2 linked regions of the Homo sapiens genome follow. The protein of the gene in region 1 interacts with the protein of each later gene in a biochemical or structural test. Each region holds a gene or a part of one and is shown on either strand. Other genes may lie near its edges.

Region 1 (3,921 bases):
TAACGATGGAGAGCTTGGTCTTCAAAGAGACTTTTATTCCACCACTCCAAGTCTCTCTACATTCTCCTTTGGGGACAGGGAGGACAGCACTGTGGCGGAGAAAGGGAAGAGGGGAATAGGCATTAGAGGAAGAAGGCCTGGAAGGAAGTCACATTCCAATTCTTGGTCTCATCACAAAGCAGAGAGATACGTTAGTTGTGCTATACAACAGGCCTCAAGAAAAAGCAAACTTTTTGTGTATTTTGGCAATGGGATCCTTTAAACAAACTGGAGCAGAGCTATCATAAGCCAACACTGCTCCTCTATTCTTGAAATGAGATCGGTTTATCCTCACTTTCAAGTCATATAACTTCCACTTGTCTTCCTTTGGTAATCCCCCTCCATTCTCCAAATCTCCCCTTTCTTTCAGTTCAAGTTCCAACCTCTTCCTAGAAACCTATCTCCGTCTACACTGATCTTTTCTATGTAACTCATTTGGGCCAAATCAAAACCACAATAAAATACCACTTTACACAAAGTGGTACAGCTGCTTTAGGAAACAATTTTAACAGTTTCTCAAAATGTTACATAGAGTTACCAAAAGATCCAGCAATTCCACTCCTAAGTATATACCCAAGCGAAATAAAAACATATGTCCACACAAAATGTTCATAGCAACATCATTCATAATGATGAAAAGGGGAAACAACCCAAATACCTAACAACTGACAAATGGATGAGTAAAATGTGGTATGTCCATACAATGGAATATTATTCAGCAGTAAAAAGTAATGAAACACTCATGCATGCTCCAACATGGATAAATCTTGAAATCATTAAGTGAAAGAAGCCACGCAGGACGGGTTATATATGATTCTATTTATTAATATATGAAATGCCCATAAAAGGCAAATCTATAGCAAGTAGATTAGTGATTGCCTAGGACTGAAGGGTTTGGGGGAATGAGGAGTGTCTAACAGGCATGGGGTTTCTTTCTGGGGTGATGAAAAAGTTCTGGAATTAGTGGTAATCAATCACCCTTGTGAATATACTTAAAACCACTTAAAAAAGTAAATTTTAGGGCTGGGCACAGTGGCTCATGCCTGTAATCCCAGCACTTTGGGAGGCCAAGGCAGTCGGATCATCAGGAGTTTGAGACTAGCCTGGCCAACATGGTGAAACTAAAAATACAAAAACTAGTCAGGCATGGTGGCGGGCACCTGCAGTCCCAGCTACTTGGGAGGCTGAGGCATAAGAATCACCTGAACCCAGGAGGCGGAGGTAGCAGTGAGCCAAGATCACACCACTGCACTCCAGCCTGGGGGACAGAGTGAAACTGTCTCAAAAAAAAAAAAAAAGTAAATATTATAGTATGTGAATCTTATGTTGTAATCTTATAAGATTCACATACTATAAAATTTCGTATCTTAAACAGTTTTCAGATTACCACAACCTACAAGGCCCTGTCCAGGGTCTCTCCCTCTGACCTCACCACAAGCCTCTCTGCCATCAGTCACTACTCAAACCCACTGGCCTTCTGTCCGTTCCTGAAATATGCCTAGGGTTTTCTTGCCTCAAGGCCTGGAATAAAAAGTCTTGCCTAGTCTCTTTAGATGACTAATACCTCCTCATCCTTTAAGTCTCAGCTCAAATGTCATCTCCACAGTGAGGCCTTCCCTCGCCACTCTATCTAAAATAGGACAGTCGCTCCCATCATTTTCTCTGAGGCAACTCATGTGCTTCCTTTATAGAACATCCACATAGCTTTATGTGAATTCACCTGGTTTTTTTAATGTCAGGTCCACAAGACTGTATGCACCGTGAGGAGTGAATCTGTATTATTCACCATCGTAATTCCCAATGTCTAACACAATTCCTGGCATTTAAGTGCCAGGAATAAATGGTAATATTTTTATTTCCCTAATATGCCACGTCCTCATATGTACTGCTCCCTCTGCTGATACCACCACCATCACTACTGCCTCTACTCCCTCTGCTAACCACCCCTACCTATCTCTCAGCTGAAACATGATCCCCTTGGTGAAGGCTTCCTTTCCTGACCCTCCCTCCTCCCCAGAAGACAGTCTCTCCTTCACTTACTCACCTATTCGTCACCAGCGGCATCTCCACCATTGCAATTAACTTATACTGTATTATACTTGTGTTTTGTTTTTTTTGTTGTTTTGTTTTGTTTTGGTGGGGAGGGAGTCTGGAAGGGATTGTTTTTGTTTTACATTTGTGTCCACTACTTTAGAAAGCCTTAAAGAAAAATATTTGTTCATCTTTGTGTCCCCAGTACTTAGCACACTGCCAGGCACAGTATTGCCACTAATTATGATAATAATGGCTAACATTTATTGTTTAATATGTGCTTAATCTTCTTAGTTCTACAGTAGGTAAATGGATGAATAAATGGATAAATTTCTTGGTCACTAACCTCACAGAGGTCACAGTTTGACAGGGACAGAAGACAGGTATACAGGCTAATGTAGAATAATCACCACCACAAGGCCAAATTAGTTGCCCTGCCCTGTTCCTATGCCTCAAGTCTTAGAGTATGCTTTTCTCTGAGTCCATAAATGTCACGTTTCTTCAAACTCACTTAGAAAACTTCCTTCGATTACTTACAGCCCACTTCCTGCACTTGGTGCCTGGAAGCAATTTCTAGGATGTCACCACAAGCAATATTAAACTGCCACATAGTTTCCTGCTGTGTGTCTGCATTATCAGTTAAATTGCTTCATATTAACCACATTCCAGTCCACTGGGATCATTCAAACACTAAATAAGATTTAAAAATACCTGTTGAAGATTGTCAGTTACCACTGCTCCTTTTATTCTTCTAGATAAATGTCCATACAGATGTAACATTTAGGTTTCCAGGGTGCTACCTGCATACTGGTGACCTTCTCTTTTTTTGTCCATTAAATGTTGATTTGAGGCAAGACAATGTTCCTTTATTAAAATAAACATGAGGCTGGGCACGGTGGCTCACATCACACCTGTAATCCCAGCACTTTGGGAGGCCAAGGCAGGCAGATCACCTGAGGCTGGGAGTTCAAGACCAGCCTGACCAACACGGGAGAAACCCGTCTCTACCAAATAAAGAAAATTAGCCAGGCATGGTGTCTCATGCATGTAATCCCAACTACTGGGGAAGCTGAGGCAGGAGAATCGCTTGAACCCGGGGGTTGGAGGTTGCCATGAGCCAAGATCATGCCATTGCACTCCAGCCTGGGCAACAAGAGCAAAACTCCATCTCAAAAAAAAAAAAAAAAAAAAGAACTAAATAATCTAGTAAAAGGCCTGCGTAAACCATATAATTTGCCTTAGAAATTTATAAAATATAAAACTTTTCTTCCTCAAGGGTTTTTTTTTTAACTCGATAAACACTCAACTCGGTCTTAATTAGAATCTTAATATAGATCCTAATGTATTTCTTAAATGCGTTCCATGAACTCTTCTCAAACAACCATGTGCCAGGCATTGAGTCTGACACAGGGAACTCAAAGATAAATAAGACAGTCCTTCCTCTCAAGAAGTTTATGTCCAGCATGGTACGGGACACAGACAAGAAACGAGATTCAGTATTGTGACTGCAATAAACACAAGGGGCCACAGAAACACGGATGAAGGGCACCTGGCCTAGACTGGAACAGGAGGGGGTGGGGGTGGCAACAGGAAACTGGCATCAAGGCAGGCGTCTGGGGGATGGCATCTGATCTTAGGCCTATAAACTCCCATTCTCTCATTTGAAAAATGTGGTTAATAAATAGCATCGCCACCACTGGACAGTAGTGAGGGTTTCATGAAATGGTTCACATTAAGGATTTCCACGGTACCTGACAGAGATTGTGTTCAACCAGGCTTAAACTTAAAAGAGAAGTCTGATCAAACACGAAATCTCAACACCTGTGCCTAGCAACTCACGTGCTTTACCAC
Region 2 (3,921 bases), on another chromosome or scaffold:
ACAGTTGCGCCTCTGTACTCCAGCCTGGGGGACAAAAGGAGACCTTGCCTCTTTTTTGAAAAAAAGAAGAAACAAAAAAATGGAAGGTTTGGTTCTAAAAAGGAGTAGCTTTTGAAATATGGAAAGGAGGAGACATATTTGCTAAATAAATGCCCATGATAAGCCAAGAACAATGATCTTTTATATCTCTGTGATTGCATTTAATCTTTAACAAGCTTATGAAGTTAGTATTTTTATTTTATTTAGACGAGGCATAGTCAAGGATTAGATAATATATATAACAAGTAGTATAAGATTTGAATTTGAGTCTGTCTTCCCACCACACTATATTGGCTCCCAAAGCATCAAACATTATTTTTTGTTTTTGAGATGGGGTCTCACTCTGTTACCCAGGCTAGAGTGCAGTGGCATGATCATGGCTCACTGTAGCTTCAGTCAACCTCCTGGGCTCATGTGATCCTCCCTTCTCAGCTTCCTAAGTAGCTAGGACTATAGACATGTGCCACCATGCCCTACTAAAATTTTAATTTTTTTCGTAGAGACAGGGTCTTACTCTGCCCAGGGTGATCTTGAACTCCTGACTTCATGTGATCCTCCCACCCCAGCCTCCCAAAGTGGTGGGATTAGAGGTGCCATGCCAGCCAAAAGTTTTCTCAAAGGATAGGATATTTAAAGTGATGGTTTTCCAGGTGGTATAGATGCAGTGTAAAATAAAATTTAAAAATTAAGTTATGGTTTCCAACAGAGATAAAGGAAATGGACTTACAATTTGCTAAAACAAAGGAAATTGTCATTTAATGGATGTAAAATAAGTGTTAGATGCTCCTGGAGAGCCCAGTACTGTGGTAATCCTGAGAGGTAAACAGAAAATGATGTAGGATGGGGCTGGGCGCGGTGGCTCACACCTGTAATCCCAGCACTTTGGGAGGCCAAAGCAGGCAGATCACCTGAGGTCAGGAGTTCAAGACTAACCTGGCCAACATAGTAAAATCTCATCTCTACTAAAAATACAAAAATTAGCCAGGTGTAATGGTGGGCGCCTGTAATCTCAGCTACTCAGGAGGCTGAGGCAGGAGAATTATTTGAAACTGGGAGGAGGGGTTTGCAGTGAGCTGAGATGGCACCACTGCACTCCAGCCTGGGTGAAAAAAAAGATATAGTATAGTCCTTTGCCCTTAGTGGATGTAATCTAGTTCCTTTTTTTTTTTTTTTTTTTTGAGATGTAGTTTGCTCTTGTCGCCCAGGCTGGAGTGCAATGGCGCCATCTCGGCTCACTGCAGCCTCCGCCTGCCAAGTAGCTGGGATTACAGGTGTGCCACCATGCCCGGCTAATTTTTGTATTTTTAGTAGAGATGGGGTTTCACCAGGCTGATCTCGAACTCCTGATCTCAGGTGATCCACCTGCCTCGGCCTCCCAGAATGCTGGGATTACAGGCGAAAGCCACCTCAACCAGCCTCGTTACTTACATAAATCAGTAGTGCAAGACAATCTGTTATAAGTGACATGATCAAAATTGATACTTTAGGAGTCAAGGTTTATCTTTTTTTCTTTTTTATTATTTTTATTTTTGCCCCCCCCCTTTTCTAGCTGAAAATTCTATACTTTCCCATTTGAAAGTTCTTAGAAAAACAGTTCAACTAGTTGCTTCCTAATTCCTTCCATTTATTTTGTAGTATAGAATTCTAATAATGGGCCAGGTGCCATGGCTCATGCCTGTAATCCCAACACTTTGGGAGGCCAAGATGGGTGGATCACTTGAGTCCAGGAGTTCGAGACCACATGGGCAACGTGGTGAAACCCCATCTCTACAAAAAATAGAAAAATTAGCTAGGTGTGGTGGCACGCACCTGTAGTCCCAGCTACTTGGGAGGCTGAGGCGGGAGGATCATTTGAGCCCAGGGGGTCAAGGCTGCAGTGAGCCAAGATTGTGCTACTGTGCTCCTAGGCAACAGAGTTGAGACCCTGTCTGAGAAAAGAAGCTAATATTTGTATCTCTAAGAATTGATAACTACCTTCCTTTTTTTAAAGAATGTCTTACTCGATCAGGTAAATCTTGAATTTTTCTTTCTTTTTTTTTTTAAGAGATAGGGTTTTGACATATTGTCCTGGCTGGTCTCAAACTGCTGGGCTCCAGTGATCCTCCTGCCTTGGCTTCCCATAGTGCTGGGATTACAGGAGTGAGCCACTGCGCCCAGTCTTGGATTTTTCTTGCTATCATTTTCTTAAGATGTCTTCCTGATCTAGAGTTGGCAGGCAGCATTCTGAAGCAAGTTAATTTTTTCCTTCCATGATGAAGCAGATAAAAACTGTAGTGTACACACTCGCGCTATCCCACCCCCCTTTTATTACTCTGTACATGCCTTTGAGTCAGTAAGCTAATTCAGTTAGTAAATTCATGGGGTTTTTTTGTTTGTTTTTTGAGATAGGGTCTCGCTCTGCCACCCAGGCTGCAGTGCAGTGGTGCGATTTCAGCTCCCTGCAACCTCCGTCTCGGGCTCGTGATTCCTCCCACCTCATCTCCCAAGTAGCTGGGACTAAAGGCATGCACCACCACACCTGGCTAATTTTTGTATTTTTTTGTAGAGATGACCTTTCGCCATGTTGCCCAGGCTGGTCTCAAACTCCTGAGTTCAAGCAATTTCAGGCCTGATCGTTTGCCTCAGCCTCCCAAAGTGCTGGGATTACAGGATGAGCCACCATGCCTGGCCAAATTCACGATTCTTTAGGATCCTTGATTTGTTATTTTTCTTTTTGTTCCTACTTTGTGGCTATTTTGGTACCTGCACTTAAATGTGAGAGTGCAGAGGGAAGGGGAAAAATAGATACAATTTATTCTTAGGGTAGTTGAGAAAAGTAATTAATTGGTGAAGAATAAAAATTTTTTAGATTTGAAATAGCACTAATAAATTAAACTTACAAATAGTTCTCAAATCAGCTTTTAGCATTACAGCCTTAAGTTCTTACTTTTAAAGAGACATTTTCTTCCTAATGTCTAACCATTGGTACCATTTTGCTGCCTACACTGTTTCATATAGAGAGTGTCGTTTAACTGTTAAAATTTACTGAAACAATTTTTCCCCAGGGTCTTATTTTTGTGGTAGATAGCAACGATCGTGAAAGAATTCAGGAAGTAGCAGATGAGCTGCAGAAAATGGTAAGAAATATACTTTAAATTCATCATTTTCAAGGTGTGCTTTTCTGGATTAAACTGGTGGTGGTTTAGTACATTTTGACTATGATTAGATTACACAAATGGATTGGGGGGGCTAGAAATAAACTTAAGAAACTATATTATCCACAGGTTCTTAATAATGTACTTCAAAATCTCTTATAGAGCGTTTTAAAAAACACATGGAAGAGTAGCTACTTCAGTAAGTTGGGAGGAAGGCAGAGCAGTGTTGTTTTTTTTTTTTTTAGAATGCCTCATGGGTAATCTTGATGCCTATCTCTGGCTGAGGATATCTGATTTAGCTCAGTCCCTTACTTTACAGATATCAAATCTATAGTGCTGTAGTGGTTTTGACCCTAGGAATCTTGGTTCAGATGTTTTGTTCCCAAGGTCATCGGTTCCATTTTCTCTATGCTGTGCCAATAATTACTTCAGAAATGTTTTTTAATAGTAACCATTTAAGGATAAGGAATTCCTTCTGAAAGTAGAGACAAATGTTTGGTTCACAGTGGCATTTTGCAGCCTTCCCATAGATTGGATTAATGTTTTCATGTGTTCATGTTGTTAAATGTACTAAATGGAGGAAGACTGCTGAGAATCCTTGTCATGATTTTAAACTTGTAGCCATAAAATATTTACTGAAATGAAATCTTAATTCTTGTTCATTCCTCCTAAGATTAGAGGGCAGTTTGTAAAACCATTGTGCCAGTATATGTGTAACTAAGTCATTGTTGGATTTTTGCCTGAGTCA

Evidence for each region.
Region 2: the proteins of DENND1A (region 1) and ARF4 form a complex in vitro, tested with the Homo sapiens proteins (one study listed by BioGRID).

What each region holds. Positions count from the first base shown.
Region 1 is NC_000009.12:123,923,327-123,927,247, forward strand, and holds part of DENND1A (DENN domain-containing protein 1A), read right to left. Parts: intron 1-3,921. UniProt on the Homo sapiens protein: Guanine nucleotide exchange factor (GEF) regulating clathrin-mediated endocytosis through RAB35 activation. Promotes the exchange of GDP to GTP, converting inactive GDP-bound RAB35 into its active GTP-bound form.
Region 2 is NC_000003.12:57,576,550-57,580,470, reverse strand, and holds part of ARF4 (ADP-ribosylation factor 4), read left to right. Parts: intron 1-3,083; coding exon 3,084-3,155; intron 3,156-3,921.